2 linked regions of the Homo sapiens genome follow. The protein of the gene in region 2 interacts with the protein of the main gene of each other region in a pairwise test. Each region holds a gene or a part of one and is shown on either strand. Other genes may lie near its edges. The genes, in order: CEACAM1 and HAVCR2.

The links.
Region 1: the proteins of HAVCR2 (region 2) and CEACAM1 interact in binary tests that used the Homo sapiens proteins (3 or more experiments, as listed by UniProt).

Annotation. Positions count from the first base shown.
Region 1 is NC_000019.10:42,510,724-42,518,744, reverse strand, and holds part of CEACAM1 (cell adhesion molecule CEACAM1 isoform 1 precursor), read left to right. Parts: intron 1-3,641; coding exon of another isoform or gene 3,642-3,734; intron 3,735-6,265; coding exon 6,266-6,395; intron 6,396-7,116; coding exon 7,117-7,169; intron 7,170-7,824; coding exon 7,825-7,856; intron 7,857-8,021.
Region 2 is NC_000005.10:157,091,533-157,099,553, forward strand, and holds part of HAVCR2 (hepatitis A virus cellular receptor 2 precursor), read right to left. Parts: intron 7,370-8,021; coding exon 7,326-7,369; intron 3,928-7,325; coding exon 3,774-3,927; intron 1-3,773. UniProt on the Homo sapiens protein: Cell surface receptor implicated in modulating innate and adaptive immune responses. Generally accepted to have an inhibiting function.

The sequences.
Region 1 (8,021 bases), on a different chromosome or scaffold from region 2:
GCGGATCACGAGGGCAGGAGATCGAGACCATCCTGGCTAATATGGTGAAACCCCGTGTCTACTAAAAATACAAAAAAAAATTAGCCGGGCATGGTGGCGGGCGCCTGTAGTCCCAGCTACTCGGGAGGCTGAGGCGGGAGAATGGCGTGAACCTGGGAGGCGGAGCTTTCAGTGAGCCGAGATGGTGCCACTGCACTCCAGTCTAGGCAACAGAGCAAGACTCTGTCTCAAAAAAAAAAAAAAAAAAAGAGCTCAGGCTCTGAATCAAATATACATATACTTAGTTGGTTTTTTTTGGTTGGTTGGGTTTTTTTGTTTGTTTTGTTGTTTTGAGACAGGGTCTCACTCTGTCACCCAGGCTGGAGTGCTGTGGTGTGATCAAAGCTCACTCCCGCCTCAATCCCCTGGGTTCAAGCAATCCTGCCACCTCAGCCTCCAGAGTAGCTGGGACTACAGGTTGCACCACCATGCCTGGCTAAGTTTTTAAGTTTTTTTGTAGAGTTGGGGTTTCACTGTGTTGCCCAGGCTGGTCTCAATCTCCTGGTCTCAGCCTCGGCCTCCCAAAGTGCTGGGATTACAGGAATGAGCCACTCTGCCCACCCCGTATTTAACTATTCTAAGTACCTCTCATACAGATGGAAGCATGCAATATTTGTCCTTTTGTGTCTGGCTTACTTCATTTAGCACAATGTCTTCAAGCTCCATCTATGTTGTAGAATGTATCAGAATTTCATTCCTTTTGGAGACTGAATAATATTATGCTGTGTAGATAGATACATCACATTTTGCTTATCCACTCATCCATCTATGGACAGTTAGGTTGCTTCCACCTTTTGGCTATTATGAATAATGCTATTACAAACATGGGTATACAAATATCTGTTCAAATCCCTGCTTTCAGTTCTTTTAAATAGATACTCAGAAGTGGAATTGCTGGATCAAATGGTAATCCTGTTTAATTTTGAAGAACCATCATACCATTTTCCACAGTGGCTATACCATTTCACATTCCCACCAGCAATGCACTAGAGTTCCAATTTCTCTACATCTTCAAAAACATTTGTTGCTTTCTGGTTTTGTTTTGTTTTTTATAATGGCCATCCTAATGGTTATAAGGTGGTATATCATTGGAGTTTTGATTTGCACTTCCCTAATGATTAGCAATATTTAGCATCTTTTCATGTGCTTATTTGCCATTTATCTTCTTTGGAGAAATGTTTATTCAAGTCCTTTGCCCATGTTTTAATTAGGTTGTTTGGGGATTTTTGGTTGAGTTGCAGTAGTTCTTTATATATTTTGGATATTAATCCCTTATCAGATATATGATTCTCAAATATTTTCTCCCATTCTATAAGAAGTCTTTTCACTTTTGTGATAATGTGCTTTGATACACAAAAGCTTTTAATTTTCATTAAGTCCAATTTCTCTACTTCTTCTTTCGTTGCCTATGCTTTTAGTGTCATAGCCAAGAAATCATTGCCAAATTCAATGTTCCAAAGTTTTCACTCTATCTTCCAAGAGCTTTATAGTTTTAGCTCTTACATTTAGGTCTTTTATGCATTTTGAATTAATTTTTATATATGGTGTTACATAAAGGTTCAATTTCATTCTTTTGCATGGATATCCAGTTTCTTCAATGCCATTTGTTGAAAAGACTATCCTTTCCCCACTGAATGATCTTGGCACCCTTGTCAAAAAACATTTGGCTATGTATGCAAACATTTCTTTCTGGGCTCTATATTTTATTCCACTGGTTTCTATTTCTTTTTGCCAGTACCATACTGTTTTGATTACTGTAGCTTTTGGATTTTGTTTGTTTGTTTTATTGTTGTTGTTTGGGTTTTTTTGTTTTGTTTTGTTTTTTTGCTTTTCTTTGTAGAGATGGCGTTTCACCATGTTGCCAAGGCTGGTCTCAAACTCCTGAGCTCAAGCAATCCACCCGCCTCCACCTCCCAAAGTGCTAAGATTACAGGTGTGATGATTACCATAGCTTTGTAAAAAATTTTGAAACCAGGAAGTGTGAGCCCTTCAACTTTGTTCTTTTTCAAGATTGCTTTGGCTATCCATGGTCCCTTCAGAGTCTATATAAATTTTAGAATGAATTTTTCTATTTCTGCAAAAAATATTACTGGAATTTTGATAGAGATTGCACTGAATCTGTAGATCACTTTGGGTAGTACTGTCATCTTAACAATATTAAGTCTTCTAATCCATGAAAATGGGGTGTCTTTTCAATTTATGTCTTATTTAATTTCTTTTGGCAATGTTTTGTATTTTCAGGGTACAAATCTTTCACCTCTTTGGTTAAGTTTATTTCTAAGTATTTTTAAAGCTCTTATAAATAGAATTTTTTTCTTAATTTTCCTTTGAATTGTTATTAGTATACAAAAATACAACTGATTTTTGCATGTGGATTTTGTATCCTGCCACTTTGCTAAATTTATTATTCTAACAGTTTTTTTGTGGAATCTCTAGGGTTTTCTATATATAAGTTAGTGTATTCTGCAAACAGGTATAATTTTACTTCTTTCCAATCTAGATGCTTTTTTTTTCTTGCCTAATTGTTCTGTCTAGGTCTTCCAATACTACATTGAATAGAAATGGCAAAAGCAGGCATCCTTGTCTTGTTCTTGATCTTAAAGGAAAAGTTTTCAATCTTTCACCATTGACTATGATGGTAGCTGGGGGTTTTCACATGTAGCATTTATTATGTTGAGAATTTCCTTCTATTCCTAGTTTCAGTGTTTTTTAGCATGAAAGAATGTTGAATTTTGTCAAATGCTTTTATCGACTCATTTTCATTACTGGTTATAGGTCTATTCAGATTTTCTATTTATTCATGATTCTATCATGGCAGGTTTTGTGTTTCTAGGAATTTGTTCATTTCATCCAGGTTATCCAATTTGTTGGCATTCAATTACTCATAGTACTCTTATAATCCTTATTATTTCTGCAGAATTAGTAGTAATGTTTTACTTTCATTTCTGACTTTAGTAATTTGAATCTTCTTTCTTTCTTAGTCAATCTAATTAACAGTTGTCAATTATAGTGATCTTTTTTGAAGAACAACTTTTTTTTTTCGGTTTGAGACAGGTTCTCACTCTGTCACCGAGGCTGATCATGGCTCACCACAGCCTCAACTTCCCGGGTTCAAGCAATCCTCCTGCTTCAGCCTCCTGGGTAGCTGAAACTACAGACAAGCACTACCACCTCCGGCTAATTTTTGTAATTTTTTGTAGAGACAGGGTTTCACCATCTTGCCCAGCTGGTCTCAAATTCCTGAGCTCAAGTGATACACCTGCCTCAGCCTCCCAAATTGCTGGGATTACAGTCATACACCACTGTACCTGGCCTACAGTTATAAATTTCTTTCTTGCACAAGATTCTTAACTACTCTGAGCCTCGGATTCCTCAACCGAAAATTGCACTGTGAATGCCTGCTCCATAGTATTGCACGGGTTTGGGGTTTTTGTTTTGTTTTTGAGACAGGGTGTCACTCTGTCACCCAGACTGGAGTGCAGTGGTGCAAACACAGCTCACTGCAGCCTCAACCTCCTGGGCTCAAGCAATTCCCTCACCTTAGCCTCCTAAGTAGTACATACTACCACATCTGGCTAATTTATTTTTATTTTTGTTTTCAGAGAGACAGAATCTCACCATGTTACCCAGGCTGGACTCGAACTCCTGGGCTCAAGCAATCCTCCCATCTGTTTCCCAAAGTGCTGAGATTACAGGTGTGAGCCACCACGCCTGGCCCCATAGTGTTATTTTAAAGATTTAATGTAATAATAAACCTTCAGCAAAACACCACACACAGAGGAAATGTTTCATAAATGTTAGCTGCTATTACTACTACTATTATCATTAGCCTTGAAATCAGGTAGTCCTAGGGTCAAATCTCAGATCCACCTCTCACTAGCCATCTGACTTTAGGTAAGCCTTTTACCACTCTAAGCTTCCATTTTTTCATGTTTAAAATGGAAATAATGTCTACCTGACAGCACTATTTTATGGATCAAATAAGATACATGTAAAGCATTTAGCAGCACAGGGCCTGGCACACAGGAAGTACTCCACAAAAGTAGCTAACATAGCATTAGTCACCAGCCTGAGTTGACTGGTGAGGGTTAAGCCCCAAATAGTTGCAACAGATATAAACAAGAAATAGGCTAGACACAGTGGCTCACACCTGTAATCCCAACATTTGGGAGGCCGAGGCTGGAGGATCTCTTGAGCCCAGGAATCCAAGACCAGCCTAGGCAATATAGTGGAACCCTATCTCTACAAAAATTATTTTTTTTTAATTAGCCAGGTGGGTGGGCGTGGTGGCTCACGCCTGTAATCCCAACACTTTGGGAGGTTGAGGCAGGCGGGTCACCTGAGGTCGGGAGTTCAAGACCAGCCTGACCAGGATGGAGAAACCCCGTCTCTACTAAAAATACAAAATTAGCCAGGCGTGGTGGCGCATGCCTGTAATCCCAGCAATTCAGGAGGCTGAGGTAGGAGAATCGCTTGAACCTGGGAGGCAGAGGTTGCAGTGAGCCGAGATCACGCCATTGCACTCTAGCCTAGGCAACAAGAGCAAAACTCGGTCTCAAAAAAAAAAAAAAGAAAGAAAAAAATTAGCCAGGTGTGGTGGCATGTGCTTATAGTCTCAGCTACTGAGGAGACTGAGGTGGGAGGATCACTTGATCCCAAGAGGCTACAATGAGCCATGATTGTGCCACTGCACTCCAGCCTGGGTGATAGAGTGAGAACCTGCCTCAAAAAAAAAAAAAAAAAAAAAGAAGAAGAAGAAATAGATGCAAAAGGTATTATTTATATATTATATATATATATATATATATATATGGAGGGAGAAGCATTATACAAGAAACCCACTGGGACATGGCTATGATCAAATATGGGAAAGGGGGAAAAAAGGAGGTAAAGCAAAGTCTCAAGCCTGGTATGTTAGTTTCCATCTACTGAGATACAGTGAAGATGGGATTAAACATACGAGATAATTTATTGGGGAAAATGCCTGTGAGGGAAAGTAAGGCGAGAGTGAGAGGAACCTCAGACCATGATGCAGATCTGATTCCTGTGGAAGAGAAAGAGAGGAAGGAAGTTTTAGATTGAAGTGCAGTTTTTGTTTGTTTGTTTTTTGAGACAGAGTCTCACTCTGTTGCCCAGGCTTGAGTGCAGTAGTGTGATCTCGGCTCACTGAAACCTCTGCCCCCCGGGTTCAAGCGATTCTCCTGCCTCAGCCTCTCAAGTAGCTGGGATTATAGGCACCTGCCACCGCACCCAGCTAAATTTTGTATTTTTAGTAGAGATAGGGTTTCACCATCTTGGCCAGGCTGGTCTTGAACTCCTGACCTCGTGATCCACCCGCCTCAGCCTCCCAAAGTTCTGGGATTACAGGCGTCAGCCACCGCGCCCGGCCTGCAGTGCAGTTCTAAGAGCATTTCTGCAAGGCTGACAGGGAGTCCTCCAGCCATTCACACTTCAGAATAAAACAGTCACACAAAACTGGGCTAGCTTTCATACCCCTGCTGGGAGCCTGTGGGAAGCCAGTTCTCTATGCAAAAGAGGTGGTGAATTCAGAATGCACCAACTGCCACAACTGAGACACTGAGAAAAAGATGCAACCACGAAAAAGGTGGAAAGTTCTAATCACATACAAAATAGCAATCAGCCTTTCTCATATTTCAAAGCCTTAAAAATGGCTGAGCGCAGAAAAGCCAGGGTGGAATTGGCAGAAGAGAGATCATCAACCTAGAAACATGGTGACTGGGGTTGGGCGCAGTGGCTCACGCCTATAATCCAAGCACTTTGGGAGGCCGAGGCAGGCGGATCATGAGGTCAGGAGTTCAAGACCAGTCTGACCAATATGGTGAAACCCCGTCTCTACTAAAAAAATACAGAAATTAGCCAGGTGTGGTGGCACGTGCCTGTAGTCCAGCCTGAGGCAGGAGAATCGCTTGAACCTGGGAGGCGGAGGTTGCAGTGAGCCAAGATCATGCTACTGCACTCCAGCCTGAGAGACAGAGCAAGACTCTGTCTCAAAAAAAAAAAAGAAAAGAAAAAAAGAAACATGGTGATTGAAAAAAAAAAATTGCAAGGATATAGTTAGCTAATCACCTTCCAGCAACCTTCCCACAACGAAACTGTATTCCTTGAAGGAACAATTAGAAACTACTTCATTCTGAGAGTTGTTTCCCAGCCCCCATTGTAAAATAATTTCACTTTCATTTCTTCTCCTCTTTTCTCTCCATGACAGATAATGCTCTACCACAAGAAAATGGCCTCTCACCTGGGGCCATTGCTGGCATTGTGATTGGAGTAGTGGCCCTGGTTGCTCTGATAGCAGTAGCCCTGGCATGTTTTCTGCATTTCGGGAAGACCGGCAGGTATGATGGCCTTTCCTCTTGTTCTGTTTCCTCCAAGGCTGACTGCCATGCTTGGGAGAGGGAAAGAATTCTTTGCCTGTCTCTGGGCCTGGATCTCATACTCCTCCCACTAAACTCCTGCTTCTCGGCACTAATTCCCACAGGTTTCCTCTTCCCTGGTCTTCGTGCTCCCTGTCTCCCATTATCTCTTGGACATGGGTATTCCAATCCCCATCTAATCTAGAGGAAGAGACTCAAGTATGTTCCTCTGTCCCCTAGTCAGGGAAAGCAAGGTCTAAGAAGGAAAACAAATGAAAAAATGAAAGAAGCAGCAGGAGAAAGCAAGTCATGTGCTCTGTTGACCACATTGGAAGAGGAGGGAGAAATAGCATAGGAAGAGAACCTAAGAGAAAGCAAAAACAACCAAAGTCCTCTTGAACAATAAATAGAGAAAAAAAAAAAAGTATCTACCCCGGAAAACAAAATGGGAAAGGTTTTAAGGATAGAAGTAGGCACAGAAGCAGCTGATAAAGAATGAAATGAAATGTGAACATCCAGCAAACAGGAAAAGAGTAAACACTAGAAGGGATTGTAGTTAGACTGAAGAACGAGGCCCTCAGAAGAAAGGCAGTATGAACATCAAGGACTCTAAGGAATTACCTGCTCACAGTGTCCTTCCTAACTTACGGAACAAAGATCCTGTGCTTGGGAATAGCAGTCACAGTTTCTGATATTTATTTAGGGCAAGCGACCAGCGTGATCTCACAGAGCACAAACCCTCAGTCTCCAACCACAGTAAGTAAAGCCACTTACCCCAGTGAGAACTGGTATGTTCCACCACGTGCCCTCCCCTGGCAGGGAATCCTGGATTCCCAAACCACTCCCTCCCTTCTGAATTTTCACAGAAAGGATCTCTATTTCCCAACCCTAAGGTGGCATAGGTCTTCCCACCCTTCCTAGCCACAGGAGTCCCCTGAGACACATCTGAGGAGAGAGGCTCACTCTGCCTAGGCCAGGCAGGCCTGAGGAAGATCCCATGTTTCCAGGAGCCATTTCCTCAGCCTTACTCCTTCCGCCTCCTGCCTCTATTACGGATGTGGGCACTCTCCCTTGGTGAGACTTTCCTTATCTTGTGGGTGCTGTGGGTGCTACAAGTCTCAATGCCCCTCCTTGCCACTGGAGCATGTTGCTGAGAAACACATCTGGGCAAAAATCAAGGCCTTGTGAACTGGTAGAACTCTTCACAAGTGGATTGTGGCCTCCTGTGGTTCTGCCCCTGCCCCCTCTCTGGTACTAACATGCTGGGTCTGGACCATACACTCTGAGGGAAGTAAATTCCTTAACTGATCCTTAAACTCCCCACCCTCCAACTGCCACCTCCTTCAGCTAGAATCACCTGAAGTCAGCTTTGCATTTCCATGGATCGCTAACTCTTCTTTTGCTTCTCCAGCTCAGGACCACTCCAATGACCCACCTAACAAGGTAAGCATAGCCGGTTTTCATGGGCTTATTTTCTCATGGAAATGATTCTGTGTAGAATTGATTATTCATGAAGACACAATGTAACATCAAGTTTGGGTTAATGTTCCTCAGTGCAACAACAAAGACGTATTTGTAATCACTCCCATGAGTCTACTTTGCAGCAAG
Region 2 (8,021 bases):
CTTTGGAGCAGAAACTAGATGATGGTGGGTCAAGGAGTGTAGATGGGTGAAAAGTAGAGACAACTCCTTTGAAAAATATGGCTGTGAGAACGAGTTGAGAAATGGGACTAGCTGGAGAGGAATGCATGGACTAGAACATATATTCTGCTAATGAAAATAGCATAAACAGAAAAGGAGAGAGATGACTCAGAAGAAAGGGATAAAAAGAAGGATGAAGTCTTGGCCTAGGCAATGGAGATTAAAAAGCCCTTTCATATTTCATCAGTTAGGAGAGGGGCAAAGAAGTTTTGAGCAGCAGTGAGGTATGGATGGTCATCTCAGAGAGTACACTAGAAAGATGGAAGATTGTGGGGCATTATTGAGTGTCAGTTTGTTTTTGTGAGGTCATGACTTAAAAAGCTGTCACCTTGATTTTAATATTTTCTCCAGCAACTTCCAGGGAAAAGATTGGAAATGAAACAGGCCTTTCTTATCTGTACTTCTCAGTAGCCATGTTTTTTTGGAGTGGCATATATGTGTGTGTACAAAGCATCAGATTTCCTCTAGATCCCATCACTCTTTATACAAACTAGAATAAGTGCTAATATGTATAAATTATGGTCATATTATATATATATATATATATATATATACACACACACATATATATATAAAGTGGTCTCTAATATATATAATAGTAAAGCTCAAAGTTTTACTTTGAGCCATGGCAGAAGTCAAAAAAGTAGTGAGTGTTATCAGTGCTCCTTAACAATCCCTAGTCTGTTTTGGAAATACTCAAGTGAGGCTAAGTGCAATGACTCATGCCTATAATCCCAACATTTTGGGAGGCTGAGGTGGGAGGATTATTTAAGCCCAGGAGTTTGAGACCAGCTTGAGCAACATAGCAAGATCTCATTTCTATTTTTATTTTATTTTATTTTATTTATTTTTTGAGATGGAGTTTCACTCTTGTTGCCCAGGCTGGAGTGCAATGGCACGATCTCAGCTCACTGCAACCTCCGCCTCCTGGGCTCAAGTGATTCTCCCACCTCAGCTTCCCGAGTAGCTGGAATTATAGGCATGTGCCCCCATGCCCGGCTAATTTTGTATTTTTAGTAGAGATGAGGTTTCTCCACGTTGGTCAGGCTGGTCTCAAACTCCCAGCCTCAGGTTATCCACTCACCTCGGCCTCCCAAAGTGCTAGGATTACAGGCGTAAGCCACCGTGCTCAGCCTCTATTTTTAAATATGTATATATTCATCACGCCTGTAATCCCAGCACTTTGGGAGGCTGAAGTAGGAGGATCACCTGAGCTCAGGAGATTGAGACCAATTTTCTGGGCAACATGGCAAAACCCTGTCTCTACCAAAAAAAAAAAAAAAAAAAAAAAAAAAAAAAAAAAAAAAACTAGCCAGGTGTGGTGGCATATGCCTGTAATCTCAGCTACTTGGGAGGCTGAGGCACAAGAATTGCTTGAACCCAGGAGGCAGAGGTTGAAGTGAGCCAAGATCACACCACTGTAGTCCAGCTCCCAGGTGACAGAGTAAGACTCTGTCCCAATAATAATAAATATATATATATATGTGTATACATATATATACATATATATATATTCATGTGATCAATTCAAAAATTCCATGGCTATCTCTGAATAAACCCAGGTAAGTGTGGGTGGGGTAGTTTCTTTTTCTGAATAATCCATTTAACCATAATCGCAGAAACCATAAAGATGAGGAGCAGGACAGTCCTGGTTTCAAATCCAGTATCTATCAATTAACTGTGTAAATGCAGGCAAGTGACCTAACCTTTTAGCATGCTGATTCTCCATTAGAAACATATTAGTACCTATCTCATAGGGTAGTTACGAGAATTTAATGCACGTAAAGCACTTGGCAGCTTCAGTCCACAGTTAGTGGGGGGACCAACTCATGTTTTTCTTGGACTGTTCCAGTTTTAGCCCTAGAAGTCCCATATATCTTAGGAACACCCTTTAGTCTTGAGCTAATCTGAGGTGATTGCTCACTCTACACACACAGTCCCTGTTTGTGTATTAGTAAGAAAGGCTGCTATGTCATATTACGCTCTGGGGCATAAGGACTTGGTTTCTGCCCTAAAAGAAAATAAAATAGACACAATTATAAAAGTGTGTGAGTGGCCAGGCACAGTGGCTCACGCCTGTAATCCCAAAACATTGGGAGGTCGAGGTGGACGGATCACAAGGTCAGGAGATCAAGAACATCTTGCCCAACATGGTGAAACCCTGTCTCTACTAAAAATATAAAAATTAGCCAGGCGTGGTGGTACATGCCTGTAGTCCCAGCTACTCTGGAAGCTGAGTCAGGAGAAACACTTGAACCCGGGAGGCAGAGGTTACAGTGAGCTGAGATCGTGCCACTGCACTCCAGCGTCCATCTCCAAAAAAACAAAAGTGTGCGAGGTTTTGGGGGTACTGGAAGTATTTAGATCTTGATTGTGATGATGGCTTCCTACTGTAATTCTCCATCAAAATTCATCAACTTCAACACACTTCTTTTTTTTTTTTTTTTTGGAGACTGTCTTATTCTGTTGCCCAGGGTGGAGTGCAATGATGCAATCACCGCTCACTGCAGCCTCCTGAGCTCAAGTGATCCTCCCACCTCAGCCTCCTGAGTAGATGGGACTACAGGTGTGTGCCACCATGCCCAGCTCATTATTATTATTATTACGTTGTAGAGGCAGGATCCTGCTTTGCTGCCCAGGCTGATCTTGGTCTCAAACTCCTGGGCTCAACTGATCCTCTCACCTCAGCTTCCGAAAGTGTTGAAAATACAGGCATGAGCCACTGCACCTGGCCATTGTATTTATTTATTTATTTATTTGCTTATTTATTTATATTTTATTACTTTTTTTTTTAAGACAGTCTCACTCTGTCACCCAGGCTGGAGTGCAGTGGCATGATCTGAGCTCACTGTAACCTCCACCTACCAGGTTTGAGTGATTCCTCTGCCTCAGCCTCCTGAGTAGCTGGGATTACAGGCATGCGCCACCACACCCGGCTAATTTTGTATTTTTAGTAGAGATGGGGTCTCACCATGTTGGCCAAGCTGGTCTCGAACTCCTGACCTCAAATGATCCACCCCCCTCAGCCTCCCAAAGTGCTGGGATTACAGGCGTGAGCCACTGCGCCGGGCCTGTTTTTTTGTTTTTGTTTGTTTGCTAGTTTAAAAAAAAAAAAGGGATAAGTAACTTAGAAAAAGCTATGTGCTAAGTACCATGATGGAGGAAAACATTCTCTAACCCCAGTCACGACCCAGTGTTAAAGGGACTTGCAGTCTACTGCCAGAGAGGTATGCCTGAGAAACCAATAACAGAAAAGTGCACAGAAGGAAGTGTTTTTTGTTGTTGTGTTTCGTAACAAACCTAGACATATTCATGAATTAAAGAAATTAGTTTACTGGAATCAGCCTGCCTGGATTTGATTTCCGGTTCTGCCAGGTACTGATGTTGAAACCTCGGGAAGGCAGCTTACTCTAAGCTTGACTTCCCTTCACTGTAAAATGGGGATGGTACTATTCCTTATCTCATAAGACAGTAATGATGATAAAATGTATGTAAAACATTTAACGCAGTGGCTGCCTGACACACAATAAATATTAAATAAAAATTAGCCATTATTGTTAGGATTTGGATGGACAAAAGGGTATTTAGTCTAATCATCTTTGGGTATAAACATGAATTTGCATTTCTATCTAGGTTTTTACTGGTTCTCACTGAAGAATTTGTTATCAGAGGGAGAGAGAAACAAAAACACTTACATTTGAAAATTAAAGCGCCGAAGATAAGAGCCAGAGCCAGCCCAGCACAGATCCCTGCTCCGATGTAGATGCCTATTCTGATGGTTGCTCCAGAGTCCCGTAAGTCATTGGCCAATCTAGAGTCCCGTAACTCATTGGCCAATGTGGATATTTGCTATGGAAACACAAACAGGATTTAAGCAGAAAACAGCTAGAAATCGCTTGTGTAATCAGCTTCAAGATTTGTGAATTGGACCATCCCTTTTACAACATCACAGGATGGCTGAGTCCTTCAAATCACCTTTGATCTGTCACCTTGTAGCCAACACTCAAGCCAACCCAAGAAAGGGTCTCCCTTAACCTTTGGAGTTAGCAAGGAAACAAAATGTGCCCTTCTGTGTTGTGGGTAGAGAAGGAGCTCTTAAAAAAAAAAAAAAAAAAAGAGAGAAGGAGCTCTTAAGACCCTTTCCCTGCCCCTGCAAAAATTGGCTTTAGAGTGGAGTCTTGTTGGTTCAAGATCCCCTAAGATTCCCCAGAGAGTTTTAGAGTAGTTTACATTTAGTGTCTTGCTATGAAACGTCTATTTTTCACAAAAAGACAGTGATTCAATAGCCAAGACTTTACAGCCAGACGGTCGTGGATTCAAATCCCAGCTCTGAGGCCGGGCGCGGTGGCTAATGCCTGTAATCCCAGCACTTTGGGAGGCCTAGGCAGGCGGATCACCTGACATCAGGAGTTTGAGACCAGCCTGGACAACATGGTGAAACCCCGTCTCTACTAAAAATACAAAACTTAGCCAGGCGTGGTAACACATGCCTGTAATCCTAGCTAGTGGGGAGGCTGAGGCAGGAGAATCACTTAAACCCAGGAGGCAAAGACTGGAGTACTCGAGTTGAGATCATGCCACTGCACGCCAACCTGGGCAACAGAGCGAGACTCCATCTCAAAAAAAAAAAAAAAAAAAAAATTCCCAGCTCTGCCACTAAGGGCTGAGTAATCCTGTAGAGTTATCAGGAAAACTAAGTGAGAGAAAATATAAAATGCTTAGTACAGGGCCTGGTACATAATAAATGTTCAATCAATCGTAGCTATTATTGCTATTGCTCTAGTTAACTTGATTTTCTGATAACTGAGAGCCACACAAAATAAATCCTGTTTCTAAAATTTCAGTCTATGGGTTCTCTCTTTTTCTCTCTTTAAAAACAATGATTAGGCCAGGTGCGGTGGCTCACGCCTGTAGTCCCAGCACTTTGGGAGGCCAAGGCAGGCAGATCACGAGGTCAGGAGTTCAAGACCAGCCTGGCCAACATGGTGAAACCCCATCTCTACTAAAAATACAAAAATTAGCCAGGTGTGGTGGCGGGCACCTATAGTCCCAGCTATTTGGGAGGCTGAGGCAGGACAATCGCTTGAACCCAGGAGGCAGAGGTTGCAGTGAGCCAAGGTTGTGCCATTGTACTCCAGCCTGGGCGACAAGAGCAAAACTCCATCTCAAAAATAAATAATAAATTAATAAATAAATAATAATTATAGGCCAGGCTCACACCTATAATCCCAGCACTTTGGGAAGCTGAGATGGGAGGATCACTTGAGACCAGGAGTTAGGGACCAGCCTAATAATATTGAGACCCCATTTATACAAAACACACACACACACACACACACACACACACACACACATATAATTATAAGCATTTTTAAAACAATGAATTTAAGGAAGTTAAATCTTCCATTTATTCAATATACATTTACAAATTGATTCAATACACATTACTCCTGCAATAACAGGAGTCCTATATGCAAGATATTGTGCATTAAGCATTGTGGGCACATACAGGTCCTTAAAAAGCACTGTTTGATTGCAAAGAGAGAAGGAGCAAATACAAGATGCTGAGCATCAGTTGTGAATACACAAGCAAGAAACTGAGTCAAATAAATGTGGGCTCCTGGATATGCCCTCAAGTAATTTTTTTTTTTTTTTTTTTTTTGAGACAAGGCCTTGCCCTGTCACCTAGGATGGAGTGCAGGGGCATGATCACAGCTCAATGCAGCCTCAACCTACTGGGCTCAAGTGATCCTCCTGCCTCAGCCTCCCAAGTAGCTGGAACTACAGGTTTGCAGCACCATGCCTGGCCAAATTTTAAAAAATATTTTTTGTAGAGACAGGGTGTCACTATGTGGCCCAGGCTAGTCTCAAACTCCTGGTCTCAAGCATTCCTTCCACCTTGGCCTCCTAAAGTGCTGGGATTACAGGCATGAGACACTGTGCCCGGCCTCCTCAAAGAATTTTTAAGTCATTGCTGCAAGCTTGCCTTCTAGTGGTTTTTCTTTTATGAGGGAATTTCGCTCTTGTTGCCCAGGCTGGTGTGCAGTGGCGCGACCTCAGCTCACTGCAACCTCCACCTCCTGGATTCAAGCGATTCTCCTGTCTCAGCCTCCTGAGTAGCTGAGACTACACAGGCACACACCACCATACCTGGCTAATTTTTTGTATTTTTAGTAGAGATGGGGTTTCACCATGTTGACCAGGCTGGTCTCAAACCCCTGACAGGTGATCCACCCTACTTAGCCTCCCAAAGTGCTGGGATTACAGACGTGAGTCACTGCGCCCAGCCAGTTTTTCTTTTATTCTGAGAAGGTAGCAGGGACAGTAAAATTGAGGTTTATTAAGGTATGGCTTTATTTATAGTTAAATACATAAAACTGGCTGGGCACCATGGCTCATGCCTGTAATCCCAGCACTTTGGGAGGCCAAGTTGGGCGGATCACCTGAGGTCAGGAGTTCAAGACCAGCCTGACCAACATGGAGAAACCCTGTCTCTACTAAAAATACAAAATTAGGCCAGGTGCCATGGCTCACGCCTGCAATCTCAGCACTTTGGGAGGCCGAGGCAGGTGGATCACCTGAGGTCAGGAGTTCAAGATCAGCCTGGCCAATGTGGTGAAACTCCGTCTCTACTAAAAATAAAAAAATTAGCCGGGTGTGGTGGCTCATGCCTGTAATCCCAGCTACTCGGAAGGCTGAGGCAGGAGAATCGCTTGAACCCGGGAGGCGGAGGTTGAGGTGAGCCAGGATCACACCCTTGCACTCCAGCCTGGGCAACAAGAGCGAAATTCTGTCTAAAAAAAAAAAAAAAAAACCTCTTCACTTTGAATATTCCTGACTGGTGTCTTGCCATATTTAAAGAGATAAATTTAAATACTCTTTCCCATTAGGATTGCAATGGAAGCAAGAAGAATGGTATTCTAGGGAGATGAAGAATCTTTGAACCTTCCACAGGGTAGACAGTTGTGAAATTGAAGAATAAGAGGGACAAAATGCTAATGTTTCTTCTTTGTGGTTTTCAAGCTCTTACTATATGCCAGGCACTTTACACACATCATGTCAGTCCTTCATTACAGCAGGCCTATGAGGTTAGAACTGTCATCATCAACATGTTACAGCCCAGGAATCTGAAGCTAAGGGAACTTAAGGCTTTTTACCCCAAGGACAAGGTGGGCATGAAGGAAGTCTAAAGCCATGATTTCCCCTCCAAGTTGAGTACAACATAGCTCACAAAAAAAGTTACTTACTGTTAGATTTATATCAGGGAGGCTCCCCAGTGTCTGTGTCTCTGCTATAAAAAGAGAGAGAGAGAGAGAGAGAGGAAAAATAGCCAATAGTATAGTTAAGAACGTTTTCTTTTATCTAAGTTTTTAAAAAATCTTAATGATGCCTATAATCCTATTTGAAATGAATTCTACTCCGTACTTGTCACAATAATTAATGGAGAGACAGACAAAATTTACTGAACACCCAGGAATCAACTTTAGGATGGCCACATTTTTTCATCTAGATAATGAACCGTACTGTTTTATGAAATAGAGACTTCTGCCAGGAAGTCCTACATTAAATATGTGCTTTGTTTTTTTCACAGGACCCTAATGAGTTCTACAAACATCTAGCAATATTGATAAGACTCAGGCATTATTTATTTATTTATTTATTTAGACACAGAATTTCACTCTGTCACCCAGGCTGGAGTGCAGTGGCATAATCTCAGCTCACCGCAACCTCGGCCTCCCTGGTTCAAGCAATTCTCATCCCTCATCCTCCCAAGTAGCTGGGACTACATGCATGCACCACCACGCCCAGCTAATTTTTGTATTTTTAGTAGAGACGAGGCCATGTTGACCAGGCTGGTTGTGAACTCCTGACCTCAGGTGATCTGCCCACCTCAGCCTCCCAAAATGCTGGGATTACAGGTGTGAACGACCAGGCTTGGCCTC